Regions from separate parts of the Homo sapiens genome. Here all the other regions are reported to be linked to region 2. The links are microRNA targets in miRTarBase. Many come from high-throughput screens and were not tested one by one. Region 2 holds a microRNA gene; each other region holds the end of a gene's coding sequence.
What was found. The annotated mature microRNA hsa-miR-6736-3p reads UCAGCUCCUCUCUACCCACAG and lies in region 2 at 1,568-1,588, shown strand. An mRNA with a match to its seed (bases 2 to 7 or 8) in the 3' UTR can be bound and repressed. Matches are read on the target gene's strand: a 7mer-m8 pairs with bases 2 to 8, a 7mer-A1 pairs with bases 2 to 7 and ends in A, and an 8mer does both.

Region 1 (3,000 bases), not on the chromosome of region 2:
CTTGTTTAATTCTTATAACAACAAGCAAAGATTATCCCATATGTTAAGGTTATAGAAGCTTAATATCAGAACAGCTGGCAGCCCCATGGCACCAGGAACAGCATAGGATGCTCCACCTACGGCAGCTCCTGGATTTGGGGAGGCTTCTGGAGGCAGAGGGGTGAGTGCCCAGGTCTCGGTGTCGGCCCCTGGCACTCCTCCCTGCAGTCCAGCATGGCTGCTGCTCGCCCCGTGCCTGAGCATTCCCACATGGGTTGTAGGTACAAAGCCGAGTGTGCGGTGTGTGGTGGGTCTGTGTCACTGCCTGTGTCTGACCCTTTCTGTCTTGCAGTGGTATTGAGCACGCTGCGGCAGCTGAGCACCTCCACCTCCATCCTCACAGACCCGGCACAGCTGCCAGAGCAGGCGTCCAAGGCTGTCACCAGGATTGGCAAGAGATTGGGAGAGTCCTAGCTGCTTAGCTGGCATGTGGCCGCATGAGATGCCAGGAGACCCTTCCCTGCCCATGGAGAGTAGGCTGCGCCCCCCAGCCCTTCCTGACGCTCAGCCTCGGGGCCTCTCTCCAACTCTGCCGGCCCACCGTGGCATCGGGAGGCCATGCTCAGGTCTGAAGCAGGTTTGGGGCCTGCTGACAGCAATAGCCCGCCTTTGGGAACCCCTTGCTGTGAACTCTCTCACTCAGTGACCTCAGTCACCAACCTCCTCTGCCCTCGGGGCAGCCCACACAAAAGGGAAGTGCTGGCCGTGCTGGTCCTGCCCTGCTGGTGGCCTGCCGGGCCTGGCGCCGGTGAGCGGAATCGATGGGATGAGGGTGACAGGGCCTGCTCCTGTCCTGAGGCCCAGCCTTGTCCCTCCTGCCACGTCCTGTCCACATGCATGCCTCTGCCTGATGCCCTGCTCCACTCTCTGGTCTGCCCGTGGGGCAGTTGGAAGGCGTCTTTCTTTCTCCCCTCAACTCTGACAGCACCCAGCCCTTGTGGATGGACTTGGGCTTCTATTCAGGCTTATGCATGGCAGGCTGCCAGGGGGAAGTGCCTTCTTCAGAGGTCCTCCAGGACACATGTGTGCAGAAACGGTGGATGTGGAACACACAGGACCAGAATGGAAGCGTGTGATGCACGGTGGCTGCTCTGGCTGAGAGGCCCTGCTGGGCATGTTTCATCTGTCCCCTTTTAGCTCCACCTGACATTGCAGGATCCATGGGGACTCAGCCCAGGGCCTTCTCGGATGTCACCTCACCGCTGTGGCCCTTCTGCCGTTCTTCTCCACTTGGCTCCAGCTGCAGCTGTTGACAGATCAAGCATGTCCTGTGGGAGCTTAGAACCCTGAAGTTCTAGTGTCTGAAAGATCAGACTCCACGTCCTGCTGTCAGCCTTGTCATCTTGTCTGATGTCTTTCAGCTGGGAGCCCCAAACCAGGACAGTTCTCGGACCAAAGATGCCCCCACACTCAAAAGTCTGTCCCGTCTTGTGTTTGGAGAAGGAAACAATGTTGGCAGGCAGCACTCTGTGGTGGTCAGCCCTCAGAGCTGTTTCTAGGCATCTCTCAGATCAGACAGCAAAGAATCTACCCAGATCTGGGCTGGGTGGAGGTGTGGCTGGGCTGGGGGCCATTCTGAGCCTGCAGTGAGAGTTTGGCCCAGCCTCAGTCCTTGCTCTTCTCTGGCTACCTCTGCAGGGAGCTGCAGGGGCAAGCACTCTCTCCAGCACTCAGGAAGCCCGGCCGAGGGTACCTCCTCGTGGAAAGAATGCACTTTAAAGCTCTGCTGAGGAGTTCGGAGCCCAGGCTTTCAGGCGACCTCTGCCCTCCCTGCCTCTCCTCACCCTCCCTCTCTTCCTGCAGGGCCTGGGAAGGGCTTTGAGGGAGCCTGGGAGCCATGTGAAGAGGGGCACGCCTGGGCTGTCCCACAGTTTAGATCCAGTTGGAGGTTCTCCCTGGCTCCTGCAGGCCTGCGGGGATCTCTCCCCACTTCAGGCCTCCGGCCAGCTGCCTGCCCTCTTGTCTGTGCTTCAGCCCTGCACAAAAGCAGCTTGGTGACACCACTCAGCCACCCAGAGTACGTGTTTACAGGCTTTCCAGATCACCTTCCTGTGGGGTGAACGTAATGAGGCGGGGCTGGTCCTTGGAATTTCCCCTGGAAAATGGTAACAGACTCCATCCTTGACCCGGGGATGAGCATGAAGGCATTGTCCCAAAGGCAGAGGCCACCGTGGTAGGAATTCCACCAAGGCCAGAAGGGAAAAAGGAAGAACCCACCGTGTCTGGCTGTGCGGGCCCTGGGGAGGGTCGTGAGTGCAGCCCCTCTCTACTTCTGTGCCTTTGTAAAACGTGTAGATAACCGCAGTGGTTGGCTGAGCCAAGAACTCTCCTAAATCAGTGGCTTTCTCCCCACCCCTTGCTGGGGAGTCATTTTTAAAAAAATCTGTGGGATATAAAATTGGCCTCCTGCTGCTTCAGCCTACCTCTCCCTCTGCTGACTTAATGTCGTGATTCTGTTTCTTCAGATATTTAAGGCTGTTAGGTTGTGTGAGCCTTGAAGTGTGTGTGTGTGTCCCAGCGACTGTCCACTGTCCAGGAGATGCATGTCTTTGTATTGGAGATATTTCTGTAACTCATTCTCTTGGTGCTCACGATTGCCATGGCCATAGGGCCACAGTGCCGTATCTGCTGCAGACATGATTGTTTCTTGTTCTAGAGGTTTTCTTGTTTTCGAATCTTGCCTGATGAATCCAGCCAGACCAAGGGGCCTAGATTTGACCTCTGTCCTGGGCTCCTGGGCCAGGTGCAGGAACATCTGAGGCCACTCTGCTGGCCACCTCCAGTGGGTGCTGACCACAGGATGGGCTTTGTTTACACTCATTTTCACCCTGATTCTTGCCCCCACTTTCATAAAAGAAACTTCAAAATGCTGACGCTTTGGAGAGTAAGAAAATCAATCTTGGCTGGGCACGGTGGCTCCTGCCTGTGATCCTAGCACTTTGGGAGGCTGAAGCTGAAGGA
Region 2 (4,588 bases):
GTGATCCTCCCACCTTGGCCTCCCAAAGTGCTAGGATTGCAGGCATGAGCTACCATGCCTGGCCCCTAGTGCCTTTATTTATTTATTTTTACACAAGTGTTTAGAAAGCCAAAGACCCAGTGCCTTTTGGAGATGGTTTATGGACTTCTGTGTCTCTGCTCCTTTTGTTCCTTATACTACACGTAAGTGCTCAGATTTTTTTTTTTTTTTTTTTTGAGACGGTGTTTCACTCTGTCACCCAGGCTGGAGTGGTATGGCACAGTCTCGTGATCTCAGCTCATGCAACCTCTGCCTCCTGGGTTCAAGCAATTCTCCTGCCTCAGCCTCCTGAGTAGCTGGGATTACAGGCATGTGCCGCCACATCCGGCTAATTTTGTATTTTTGGTAGAGATGGGGTTTCACCATGTTGGCCAGGCTGGTCTCGAACTCCTGACCTCAGGTGATCCACCCACCTCAGTCTCTGAAAGTGTGATTATAGGCGTGAGCCACCACGCCGGCTTTTTTTTTTTTTTTTTTTTTGAGGCAGAGCCTTGCTCTGTTTCCCAGGGTGGAGAACAGTGGTGTGGTCTAGGCTCACTGCAACCTCTGCCTCCTGGGTTCAAGCGATTCTCGTGCCTCAGCCTCCTAAGTAGCTGGGATTATAGGCATGTGCCACCACACCTGGCTAATTTTTGTATTTTTAGTAGAGATGAGGTTTCACCATGTTGGCCAGGCTGGTCTTGAACTCCCAGCCTCAAGTGATTCACCTGCCTGTACCTCCCAAAGTGCTGGGATTAAAGGCGTGAGCCACTGCACCCAGCCTCAGATTGTATTTATTTTAAAACCTATTACTTACTTTGCAAAGCTCTTTTACATACCTTGTGTTATTTGATTCCAACAACTCAGAGCGGTCCAGTAGGATGGATAATGTTCTTATTTTACAGATGAGGAAACTGAGATACAGGAAGGTGAGTTACAGAACTCTGGCTACTGTTCTGCTCATCTCCCAGCCCCGTGAATTTTCATCTCTCTCTTCCCCCAGTTTATTTATGGAGATTCTTAGTTCCTGTTCAGATTGTGATGAGATCCAATTCATGGAAGATGGATCCTGGTGCCCAATGAAACCCAAGAAGGAGGCATCTGAGGTTTGCCCCCCGCCAGGGTATGGGCTGGATGGTGAGTGACCCCCTGTTCCCCAGCTAAGCTAAATCTTGGATGGCCTCTTCTCTGAGACGTAGTCTTCTTAATACCCACAGGCCTCCAGTACAGCCCAGTCCAGGGGGGAGATCCATCAGAGAATAAGAAGAAGGTCGAAGTTATTGACTTGACAATAGAAAGCTCATCAGATGAGGAGGATCTGCCCCCTACCAAGAAGCACTGTTCTGTCACCTCAGCTGCCATCCCGGCCCTACCTGGAAGCAAAGGGTATGAGAAAATAGGCTGAGTCTACAGCAAAACGGACAGGGGAAGAAGTCAGGATTGCTTTCTGATCATTGGACAAAGCCTGGGGCAAGAGAAATGTGGAGGGGACAGAGAGGGAACCTGGGGACCTGAGCTGGGTGAGGGCATCTGTGGTTTGCTGGCTGCCTCAGCTCCTCTCTACCCACAGAGTCCTGACATCTGGCCACCAGCCATCCTCGGTGCTAAGGAGCCCTGCTATGGGCACGTTGGGTGGGGATTTCCTGTCCAGTCTCCCACTACATGAGTACCCACCTGCCTTCCCACTGGGAGCCGACATCCAAGGTATGACATGGGTCATAAGATGGACCCTGCACTGCCACACCCTCCCCAGAGCTACATCAGAACCCCTGTTCCTTCTCAAAGCCTCCTGCTTCTCCTGCAAGGGGCCACAGTCCACAGTGCTTTGTCTTTTGGTGGTAAAGGGGTCAGATAGGAGGTTAATTTTGATTTTTCTTTTCCTGCCAGGTTTAGATTTATTTTCATTTCTTCAGACAGAGAGTCAGGTAAGTGGTTCTTTCTTCAGAAGGTCTCAGATCTCTGAAGCTTCCTTTCTAGACACTGATGGGGCCCCTCCCTCTCTTATGATCTCTGGGGATGTAAATCTGCTTTCCCGTGAGGGCAGTGGGGTGTAGGTATCTTATTATCTCCTCAGCCCCACTGGTAGTTCCTGAGATTCCTACTTAGGCCTCCTTCCTAGATCCCCTGTTACTTTTCTGCCCTGGCCTACTCACCCCTACCCCCGTGTGCACTTAGAGCACCATGCCTGCTCTAACCGGACATTCCACACATTTCAGACGCCCACAAAGCCAAGAACCTAACAAGTTGGAGGAGCTCTCTCAAGGCAGGGAAAGGGGAAGGGTGTAGGGAAGTAGGGGAAAGAGGGAGAGGCTCTCCTGCTTCTCAAGAGAATACCTTCGGATCCACAGGGGTTGATTGCTCTCATACGGCATTTCTGAGATGAGTGACTGGGAGGTGGGGAAGTCGGGATTGAGATCTTAAACTATGCCCTTGATTCTTCCTAGCACTATGGCCCCTCTGTCATCACCTCACTAGATGAACAGGATGCCCTTGGCCACTTCTTCCAGTACCGAGGGACCCCTTCTCACTTTCTGGGCCCACTGGCCCCCACGCTGGGGAGCTCCCACTGCAGCGCCACTCCGGCGCCCCCTCCTGGCCGTGTCAGCAGCATTGTGGCCCCTGGGGGGGCCTTGAGGGAGGGGCATGGAGGACCCCTGCCCTCAGGTCCCTCTTTGACTGGCTGTCGGTCAGACATCATTTCCCTGGACTGAGTTCCCTGGATTATGGAAACTTCGCTGTCCCCCAACACTGAGCAAGTATGCTGTGGAGTCCCAACCCCAGCTACTCTGATCCCTCTGGGGGCTCTGGCCAAGGGCCAGACAGACCTTCACAGATGCCTACTTTTGGCCTCATCTCTGCCTGACAAGGCCAGCACCCAAAGGGTTAATATTTAACCTCTTTTTAAGGACACTGGGGTCTGTTTCTGGAAATGTTCTTTAGATGGTGGCACATTCCTTTGGGTATGTTAACCTAGGCAGTGGGAGGCAAATGGGATGGTATGTGAGCTAGGAGAAGGGCTGAACCCTCAGCCTTGACTATGTCTAGAGCCTCTTGGGGAAGGGGCACCTCTCTTGAACCCCAAATGCTCTCTCTTCTTATTACCCAAACCCATGGCTCTATTTCTTCTTCACATCCATTGTCTCTTCATGTCTATTCCATTCCCTTCGGCCAAACAGACAGGTGGAAAAACTGAGACAGGCAGTTTCAGAGATGGACAGAGAACTTTATTTTGGATTGTGGATGTGGACTTTTTTGTACATAAATAAGAAAAACCAAAATACTCCAAAGATGACTTCCCCTGCCTCCTACTCCAGTATGACAGAGGAGGATGTAAGGCCTTAGCCATGATCTGCAGGGGTCTGGGAGTCAGGCCCGGCCTATTGCTTGGGTCTCTCTCTATTTATATATCTAAGTTCACAGTGTTTCTTATTCCCCCCTAAGCTTCTAGAGGCTCATGGCCCTGTAGTTAGGCCTGGCTCATTCTGCACCTTTCCAGGGAGGTGGAAGGACCCTGTGCCCTCCTTCCCAATCTTCTTTTTCAGGCTCGCCAAGGCCTAGGACCTATGTTGTAATTTTACTTTTTATTTCTAAAGTTGTAGTGAAGCTCTCACCCATAATAAAGGTTGTGAATGTTCTGTGAGTGTCATGGAGATGGGCTAGGGAGGGGATTTTACACTTCACTTTCCAGACCCCTGGTTTGGGGGAAGAGGGTCCATGTTCCATTCTTCCTTTGCTGGCCCTGGGTCCAGGTAAGCTGCACTTTTACACGGTGGGGGTGTTCTGTGGAGGAATTCCAAGAGAGGTTGTCCTTTCCTGCTTTCCCCCGTGCCTGTAAAAACTAGACCATTCCAGCCCAGTACTGTGGAGCTCTCCAGTCCTTTTTCACTTTTACCTGCCCAGATGTTGCAGCCAGAGCTTGAGGGCAAACTTGGTTCCAGTGCTGACTCTCTCTTTGTCCTCTGCCATGGTTGGGATCATCCGCAGGAGGGTGGACATGTGCAGGACCAGAGGTCGGGCTCTTCCATCCTCCTCTAGTTCCACTGCACTGCATGGTGACAACTCCTGTTGGGGCTGTGCCTTGTAGCTTACAAAGAACTTACATATATGTTAGGTCCCCGAATCCTCCCAACTACCACAGGAGGTGGGTGGGTGTTGACCTCATTTGCAGAAAGGAAACAGGTTCAAGGAGGGTTAAATGACTTGCCCCTGTGTTAGAACTGACACTTAGACCTTCAATGCTAGCCAGTTAGAGCAAGAATCTTTGGGGTTTGATGGTCAGTGTCTTAGATTTCATGTACCTTCTTAATTATCAGCTGACCCACTCTCCTTAAATCTCCCCCACAACACAAAATTCCATCCTGAGGACAGGATAGACGCTGAACTTCTCAACATGAATATGTTGGTGTATTAGAGGCTGAGGGAGAAGCTCTTACTTACAGGACAGAGGGTGGTAGGTCCTGGGGGAGAAGTCCGGGTGTCTCTGTCCCATCCTCTGCGGCAGCCACTGCAGCAGCTACATCTGGTGTCAGCCACATAAGGGCGCTCACCTCATTTGGGTTTGGTTGGATCC
Region 3 (3,000 bases), not on the chromosome of region 2:
AACAGTTCTTGAGTCAAATCTCAGTGAAGCCACTTTTCCAGATCTTTCAGTCACTTTCCACTTAAGTAGAGATTTGCGGAAATAAATGAAAATGGTTGCCTAAGGTCAAATTTTCAAACAAGTTACCGCCTCAGAAAATAATGCATTTGAAAAAGGAGTGCATGAAACCTGGCCCTAGCATAAGTTTGATAGAACAAACAGGAATGGTTTAATCCAACACAGATCATTTTAGTACTTTTGTTTCCTTCTTGACAAATGGCCAACATTAAATAAACTTTCTGCCTAAATCAGAGTGATATGGGAAAGATACGCATCTGAAAAACACACTTGCATCTCCCCACAGAAAGATGTTCCCTAAATATAAATTTTAAGGGAGGGTTAATCATCACCATACTGAGCCTGAATATATACGTAATCATAGACATGCTGAGAATTAGTATCTTGTGTCTGACTGATAGGCTTGAGTATATGTGGTCATAATAACTTAAATCAGGATAACAACTTGGGTCATAAACACATTTTATTTCCATTCTGATTTTATCTAAACACATTTTCATCACCCTTAGATTTGTGCTTCATAGATTATTTGGTTTGAAACATAATCTATAGCTGGTGAAACATGCTGGCGGGTTTTATTTAAGCTACTTAAGATCCCTTCCTAATTTCCTGCATTTGTGATCCCGGTTTTCTACCACCTCAATTATACAAGCAGAACCTGCAACTTCAGTAAGCGTTTTATGTATACAGTTCTCCCACTGAGTATTCGTTCATGTACACACACACTCACACACACACACATGCACGCACGCTCACAGACACACCAACCATACACTGCTCCCACTTACCTTTTTCCTTATTTTTTCAGAATTTGAATTGGACATCAAAATACACATTAATTATAAAACATTAGAAAATCATGTTATAACATTGAAAAGGCTTTTGAAAGAAACTATTACTGATAAAGCATTACTAGGTTTGTAGCAATATAGATTACAAAGATTCTCTAACTCCTGTTATATTTGGTTTTATTGAGCAGCACTGAACTATTGCTGTCAATACCCTTACAAGAAAAACTGCTATAACAATAACTTCAAAAACACATCTTTTCTCTCAGAAATATAATACTAAATTGATTGTTAACAAAGAACCACATACTATCAATTTTAGGAGGCATAAATAGTAATTTAAATATACAAAATATATGCGATAGTTTCTTTTTTATTCATTCGTGGCAATATTTATATTCAACTAACAAGTTCTTCTTAAAAGATATATATGATTTTTTTAACTTAAATTTCACCACTACATAAAATTGAATCCACCCCATCCCTCATCCCCTGCATTTCCTGTCTCTTTCTTGAAACAAAATGAAATGAAACATGATCATAATTCTTTGGTCATGGTGTCATAATCAGTAAGAATGGGTGTGATGATCACATACAGAAGATTATGACCCAGAAATGTGGTGATAACCAGTTTGAAAAAATTAACAAGAAATACATATTTTATTAATAGATCTAAACTTTTAGAAAGATTGGCATTTAGTGTATTAAAATATGTAAACTGGTCTAGTTGAATGTTTATTTCTCATTTTCTTGGGGAAACAAGCATACACATGAAAAGTTACTTAAATATAGTGATTATGGTGGCTACAATGCCACTGGTCCCACTTTCTTGAAAGCAGTCATGCTCTTGAGCTATTAATTCCTTGTTCCTTCCATTGTCACAGTGAACCCTGGTCTCCTCCAATCAGATCAATGATGCAAGGACACATGTCCCTAAAGTCATTTCTGAAGGAAATGTTTTCTGCTGGGATGTCCAATATATCCTAGTAACTTTCTCTGGAGTCTGACTAACCATTGCTTAGTTATTACTAAGTCAGACTAATGGTTAGCCTAACCATTGCCAGAGGATGCTAAAGAGAAATTCTTATAAAGCCAATGTAGCAAAAATATTGTTGTCAATGTAACTTGGACGTCCAAATTAAGCATCACATTTGCATTCATTTCCTGTCAAACCCTTGAAACTTAAAAAGCACAGATGCTCTTAACAAATATGATATTCAACTTCTACGTTACTAGCACCAGATCATATATTACGTGATTGAACATGATTTATAGTTGTGAGCTCTTGTACAGAAACCAAATGTGGGCAAGGGAAAAAAAACATTTTAAATGCAAAAATTAATAATAAAAGGCATCAAGGGATTACATATAAAAGAGATAACAAACCAGTTAATACTGAAATTATATCATATAGTAAACTCTTGATATTTCTGTAATTTATATACGTATAATGTGTATTATTTCAGATGTCACCCATAAACTAGTAAAATATTTACATTTTAATATCTTCTGGATTCAAAATAATCCGGGATAAATAAGTGTGCCTTCATTGCAAGGACATATGCATTTTATCTTGAACTTGCCACGAATAGGCACAGCTTCCCGTGGCATTCCACTCCCACAGAAAAGATATGTAACAGTTCATTATCATATGACCGAGTCGACCTCCCTCTTCATATTAAGAAATGTAGAGCTCACACCATCCTGCACACACTCATATGGCAGTATCCCAGAATACCGTTTGCTGTTTAGAATACGGTGGAGGGCTGTACTTCTTGGCACCTGCATTCTTCTTCCAGCTGGGCAAGATAGGCATGCTATCCTGTTTGCAAAGGCCCTTTTCCGTTTTCTGTCTAGCCTTTATTTCCTTGCACAAGCAACGCTTTTTCTCAATCATCTCAAGCATTGTATGGTCTCCATGAAACCACTGCATGCATGCCACCTAGCAAAAAAGAAAGAGTGAATACAGAAGAAAAAAATGGAATGAAAGCATATTTCTTTTGCACTGTGCTAGTAGTTTCTTAGAACAATGTCAGCTGTTTCTATATCTCTTCTAAAATTCTTTTTAGTTTTGTCTTGTTTTAGACAAGGTCTCACCCTCACCCAGGCTAAGAATACGATGATGCAATCACAGCTCACAGCAGCCTCAACCTCC
Region 4 (3,000 bases), not on the chromosome of region 2:
ACTGCTTTCCACAGTGGCTGAACTAATTTACCTTCCCACCAACAGTGTGTTAGCATTCCCTTTTCTCTGCTACCTCGCCAACATCTCTTATTTTCTGACTTTAATAATAGCCATTCTAACTAGTGTGGATGGTATCTCATTGTGGTTTTGATTTTGCATTTCTCTGATGATTAGTGATGGTTAGCATTTTTTCATATGTTTATTGGCCACTTGTACTCTTCTTTTGAGAAGTGTCTGCTCATGCCCCTTGCCCACGTTTTAATGGGATTATTTGTTTTTTTCTTGTTGATTTGTTTAAGTTCCTTATAGATTCTGGATATTAGTTCTTTGCTGGAGGCAGTTTGTTAATATTTTCTCCTATTCTTTAGGCTGTCTGTTTACTCTGTTGATAGTTTCTTTTGCTGTGCAGAAGCTCTTTAGTTTAAGTAGGTCCCATCTGTCATTTTTTATTTTTGTAGAATGTACTTATTTTCCCTGACTTTTCAGTCAGAATTTGCAATCAAGGGGAGCATAATGGATCCAGTGGATACCCAGGATAAAAGGGTGTAATTGCCTAGAGAATCTTTTCTGTTAAATATCATTCATCTTACTTCCCTTATCCCTTTGCCTCCAAACCTGTTTCCAAAACAAAAGCATTCCTCTGAGGAAGTGCTTGCACGGTGATAGGTGATAGATAGCCCATGTGGGGAGAGGTTGGGAGAATCATGCAGAAGAGAAACCGAGAGAGATGGAAACGGCATTCTGGCCAGCCACTTTTCTTGTAATCCATCACTGTTTGCCCTGCAGTAGCGGGCTGGTTGAGCAGAGCCCCATAATTAAAATTCTCTATTCTAACCTGTCCTCACATCTTTAAGATGATTCTTTGAGAAGTCTGGGTTAAAAGGTTTAAGGAAGAAACCAAACTGTGAGTTTTGGGGGAAAGGATGATCATCACCTTTAAAAGAACTTTTGGTTTCCAAAGAAATATGCATAGAACTAAATGCACAGATTTTCTTTTCCATTTTTATTTTTTTAGCCAATTTCCAAAGCCCTAAATCACATTTTCCCTTAGACTGAAACTCTAGAAAAACATTATTATTATTATTATTTATTATTTTTTGAGACAGGGTCTTGCCTCATTGCCCAGGCTGGAGTGCAGTGGCACAATCTCAGCTCACTGCAACCTCCACCTCCAGTGTTGAGGCGATTCTCCTGCCTTGGCCTTCCAAGGGGCTGCGATTACAGGCCCGTGCCACCACACCAGGCTAATCTTTGTATTGTTAGTAGAGACGGGTTTTACCATGTTGGCCAGGCTGGTCTTGAACTCCTGACCTCAAGTGATCCGCCCACCTCGCAATCCCAAAGTGCTGGGATTACAGGCGTGAGCCACCGCATCCGGCCTAGGAAGACATTCTTATCTTCTCTAGTTCACCCTCTACCACCGTCTCCTCTCTGGAGAGCCCCCTGAATGGCTAAATAAAACAGCTAAACCACCTTTCTTCCCCCTATGACCCTGCCCATGCAACGCCTCCTCTGAGTGATTGTTCCTATCCCATCTCCTTGCAAAGGTAGTAGAAAGTATTATAGCTGAGGTTCAGACATATTCATTTGTTACCCATATACTAGTCAGAGAAATTAAATTATTTGATTGAATGAGTTCTGCTTCAAGCGACAGAAGAATGTTCCACCCTCCAGTAAATGTCACAGAGGACTAATTGAGTTTCCAGCTCCTATCCTGAAAAGCGAACAATCAAACAAAAAATAGAAGACACTGTGATACTCAGAAGCTCATTACATACATAGAGGATACTTGACCTCTCTATATATATACAAAAAAATCTCACAAATGCACAGTTGGATTATTAATAGTGTTATCTCACAGGTGTAGAATCAGGTAACCTTTACTTTTGTCTTAGTATTTTCATATAACAAAGATGTATCATGTAAAAATATCAGGAAAAATCAATCCATTTTCAATCTGATAGAAAAAAGTATTGTTTTAATACCAAGCATTAGCTTTTTCTTCTGTAAACTATTTTCAAGAGTTTAGGACAGGCCGGGCACAGTGGCTTACACCTGTAATCCCAGCACTTTGGGAGGCTGAAGTAGGCGGATCACCTGAGGCCAGGAGTTTGAGACCAGCCTGACCAACATGGCGAAACCCCATCTCTATTAAAAATACAAAAAAAATTAGCTGGGCGTGATGGCACGTGCCTGTCATCCCAGCTACTCAGGAGGCTGAGGCACAAGAATCGCTTGAACTTGGGAGGCAGAGGCTGCAGTGAGCTGAGATCACGCCACTGCACTGCAGCCTGGGCAACAGAGCCAGATCCTGTTTAAAAAAAAAAAAAAAGTTTAAGACAAAAAAGGAAAGCTCACTTTCTATCAACAATAGCTTCCAAAAGACAATAACAGGGCTGAGTGTGGTGGCTCATGCTTGTAATCTCAGCACTTTGGGAGGCCGAGGTGGGCAGATCACCTGAAGTCAGGAGTTCGAGACCAGCCTGGTCAACATGGTGAAACTCTGTCTCTACTAAAAATACAAAAATTAGCCAGGCATCATGGTGGGCGCCTATAATCCCAGCAACTCAGGAGGCTGAGGCAGGAGAATCGCTTGAAGCTGGGAAGTGAGCCACTCAACCTCCGCCACTGCCCTCCAGCCTGGGCAACACCGCGAGACTCTATCTCAAAAAAAGACAATGACAGTAACTCGAAAAGAGGCTCCTCTTAACTTCTGCCACCCTAACCCATAACTCCACCCATTTCTCCGCTGGACTTACCTCATTCACAGGGATCAGAATACTGAATTGTTGCCTGTTCATCTGTGAAATGAAATAAGTCATATTATTACTTTGAGGGCCTCCTATATTCAGAGGGAAAATGCTTCAGAAAAGCTACTGCTTGAGCCCCTTCCAGAGAATCTCTACAGGTTATGAGCATATTCAGAATTACAAGAAAGTTTCAATCACTAATATTTGTACATTGTGACAAACTATTAATCATACCAAAAATAATAGAAAT
Region 5 (3,000 bases), not on the chromosome of region 2:
CTCTGCCCAAGGCCTCAGAGCAGGCGGAGCTGCCTCGCTGCAGGCAGGTGGGGGACCACGGGAAGCCCTGCGTCTGCCGCTATGGCCTGAGCCTGGCCTGGTACCCCTGCATGCTCAAGTACTGCCACAGCCGCGACCGGCCCACGCCCTACAAGTGTGGCATCCGCAGCTGCCAGAAGAGCTACAGCTTCGACTTCTACGTGCCCCAGAGGCAGCTGTGTCTCTGGGATGAGGATCCCTACCCAGGCTAGGGTGGGAGCAACCTGGCGGGTGGCTGCTCTGGGCCCACTGCTCTTCACCAGCCACTAGAGGGGGTGGCAACCCCCACCTGAGGCCTTATTTCCCTCCCTCCCCACTCCCCTGGCCCTAGAGCCTGGGCCCCTCTGGCCCCATCTCACATGACTGTGAAGGGGGTGTGGCATGGCAGGGGGTCTCATGAAGGCACCCCCATTCCCACCCTGTGCCTTCCTTGCGGGCAGAGAGGGAGAGAAGGGCTCCCCAGATCTACACCCCTCCCTCCTGCATCTCCCCTGGAGTGTTCACTTGCAAGCTGCCAAAACATGATGGCCTCTGGTTGTTCTGTTGAACTCCTTGAACGTTTAGACCCTAAAAGGAGTCTATACCTGGACACCCACCTCCCCAGACACAACTCCCTTCCCCATGCACACATCTGGAAGGAGCTGGCCCCTCAGTCCCTTCCTACTCCCCAACAAGGGGCTCACTATCCCCAAAGAAGGAGCTGTTGGGGACCCACGACGCAGCCCCTGTACTGGATTACAGCATATTCTCATCTCTGGCCCCGAGGCTGCCTGTGGGGCGAGTGGAGACCTCCCATCACTGAGACAGATCACAGACCACGAGTGCCTTTCCCGGACCTGGACGTTGCCTCCAGAGCAGGCACCAGCTCTTTCCCTCTCTACACAGAAATATTTTTGTAAGGTTCTGGGGCAGGGAGGGAGCATGAAGTACGAGGAAAACTTGAATTCCAGATTTTTAGTGCAAAGTATTTATCATTTCTACCAGAAATAAACGTTTTAAGTTTTTACTTGACTAATGAGACCCAGAGTTTGGAGAAAACTTTTGGCCAATGCTGCCACCTGATGTCAGAAAGTGTCCCCACACCCTAGCAGTGGCCTATCTTGGAACAAGAACTTCGAAAGCACCTACTGTGTGCTCAGCCATTTGAGGAAGGAAGGAGGAGAAGGAAGATGTTACTAGGGAAGGATGAGATAAAACTTCTGCACCCAAGACAATGAGACAGACATAGCTGCAACCGTAGTAAGCCAGTCAGAAATAGCCAGCGCGAAGGCAAGAGATGGGGTGGAGATTGGAACCCCGCTTCAGATCTGGGCTCGGCTACTTACCTGCTGTGCAGCCATGGGTCAAGTTGCTTGACCTCTCTGTGCCTCCACTCCCTTAGCTATAAAATGAGCTTACTTAAGAGACCGAAGTGAATTCTTGCATGTCAAGCATCTAGCACATAGTGCTGTTAGCCATTCTTAGTATCATTACTATTAGTGAAAAAAGCAGACATTCCTGCAGCTATAAGCCTGACTCAATGAAATCAGACATCTGGAAGGCTCTTCACTTCCAAAGTATCTTTCAACATGAAGAGGCTGTAATAGGAAGTGCCGGGCAGGGTTCTGGATGGTTCCAGAGCGAGGGATGTGCAGGCTGCATGTATTGGGAAAGGCTTTCTGGAAGAGTTGGGGTGTGGGTTGAGGCTGGAAGATGGTAACGATTTGGCAAGGTGGAGGCAGGAGTGTTTTAGGGGTTGGAAGAGTCTCATGGGTTCCCCAGGTGACCCAACTTTCTCAAGGAAGAGATGGGGACAGTCAGATCCTTCCTTGAAGGCCTTGGCGAGGGAAGGGGTTTGCAGGGTGGTCCCCTTTACTCTGCTCCCAGAACTCCCAGAACAGGCTGCAACTGCCCCTTGAACTCATGCAGGCCAGAGGGTTGAGGGAGCTGGGCTTGCTTGGCCTTGGTTGAGCTGAGGGTCAGCGGGGAGATAACCTTTTCAGGTGGGCACACCTCCCTTCTGAACCTGTTTTCAAGGACCAGCTCAGCCTTGCTGGGGGATGGGGAGGGAGCTGTCCCATCAGTCACCCCCCAGTCCTTTTTCTCCTTCCCTTTCTGCCAGGGCCTCCATCCCAAGCCCCAGCCATTGCTCCAGGTGGGCAAGGGATACTTGGAGAAGGCACCTGCTACCTCCTGTGTGCCTTTTTTGATGGAAGGGGAGTCCCCAAATCAGTATGTTTTCCCTTCTGATTTCCAAGTCACCAAAAATAATGCTTTTTTAAAAAGCAATGTTTTCAAGACTTGGAGTGTTTTTCTGACCTTCCTTGACTAGCACCTCCTAGCTTGTCTGGCCCCTGCAGTGAGGGGGCTCTGGACACCATCACTACAGACACCAGCTGCCTTGGGCTCCTTAGTCTCAGGGGATGGTGATGAGAAGAATCCCTGAGACTTTGGGCTGACCTTAACACTCTGCAAAGTAGGCACCTCCCACAGGGCCACATCCAAGGGCTCGAGTCCACCATTCCAAAGCACTCGCCCAACCGCCTTAGCCCCACTGTCACAGCACCTGAAATCCTGCCGTGACAGTCACTTCTTTGCTGAAAAGCAAATTTTAGTGTGCATCAGAATCACTTAGGAGCTTGTTGAAATAGATGTAGGTGGTCAGCTGTTTGGCAAACACTGAGATAAGACTTCCCTATCGCAGGAGGCTTTTGTGGCCGTGTAAAACACTTGGGAGTGGTAATATCAGTACTTATTTCTCTGCGGACTTTAGGGTTTACAATGTGCCTTCATATAAATTGGCCATTGGCTCCTTGTAGTGACTCTGTAACATTTTATAGATGTGGCTCCCTTATAAAATTGTGTGACCAGCCCAAGTTCAAGTCCAGGCATCTTGTTAGAACAGAACTGAGATCCAACCCCTGTCCTTCTTACTCCACACCCCCTCCCAACCCAAAGTGCTTTATGAGGTTGGCCAGCCAG

Region 1: miRTarBase lists MLXIP as a target of hsa-miR-6736-3p. Seed matches in the 3' UTR shown: 7mer-m8 at 1,678-1,684.
Region 3: the mRNA of NYAP2 is a reported target of hsa-miR-6736-3p. The part of its 3' UTR that is shown has no 7-base or 8-base seed match.
Region 4: miRTarBase lists A2ML1 as a target of hsa-miR-6736-3p. Seed matches in the 3' UTR shown: 7mer-m8 at 1,704-1,710 and 7mer-A1 at 1,149-1,155.
Region 5: miRTarBase lists OAF as a target of hsa-miR-6736-3p. Seed matches in the 3' UTR shown: 7mer-m8 at 677-683 and 7mer-m8 at 736-742.

What each region holds. Positions count from the first base shown.
Region 1 is chr12:122,141,360-122,144,359 of GRCh38, forward strand. MLXIP (MLX interacting protein) reads left to right here. Exons shown (of 17, transcript NM_014938.6): 17 at 332-3,000. The coding sequence ends at 453. Among named protein-coding and RNA genes, the nearest start is that of IL31, 31 kb to the right of the region's middle. RefSeq lists a silencer at 1,130-1,330.
Region 2 is chr1:145,847,587-145,852,174 of GRCh38, reverse strand. MIR6736 (microRNA 6736) reads left to right here and starts at 1,530; the gene lies at 1,530-1,588. It overlaps PIAS3 (protein inhibitor of activated STAT 3), which reads left to right. Exons shown (of 14, transcript NM_006099.3): 10 at 1,022-1,155; 11 at 1,236-1,404; 12 at 1,589-1,722; 13 at 1,906-1,943; 14 at 2,463-3,653. The coding sequence ends at 2,729. NUDT17 (nudix hydrolase 17) reads right to left here. Exons shown (of 8, transcript NM_001012758.3): 6 at 4,456-4,588; 7 at 3,911-4,063; 8 at 3,221-3,798. The coding sequence ends at 3,696. RefSeq lists an enhancer at 1,295-2,494.
Region 3 is chr2:225,698,104-225,701,103 of GRCh38, reverse strand. NYAP2 (neuronal tyrosine-phosphorylated phosphoinositide-3-kinase adaptor 2) reads right to left here. Exons shown (of 8, transcript NM_001371273.1): 8 at 1-2,787. The coding sequence ends at 2,560. All of the region lies in intron 5 of LOC105373914 (a long non-coding RNA gene), which reads left to right. Among named protein-coding and RNA genes, the nearest start is that of NYAP2, 300 kb to the right of the region's middle.
Region 4 is chr12:8,874,772-8,877,771 of GRCh38, reverse strand. A2ML1 (alpha-2-macroglobulin like 1) reads right to left here. Exons shown (of 36, transcript NM_144670.6): 35 at 2,760-2,801; 36 at 985-1,714. The coding sequence ends at 2,761. Among named protein-coding and RNA genes, the nearest start is that of PHC1, 38 kb to the left of the region's middle.
Region 5 is chr11:120,228,892-120,231,891 of GRCh38, forward strand. It overlaps OAF (out at first homolog), which reads left to right. Exons shown (of 4, transcript NM_178507.4): 4 at 1-1,443. The coding sequence ends at 251. Among named protein-coding and RNA genes, the nearest start is that of POU2F3, 9.7 kb to the right of the region's middle.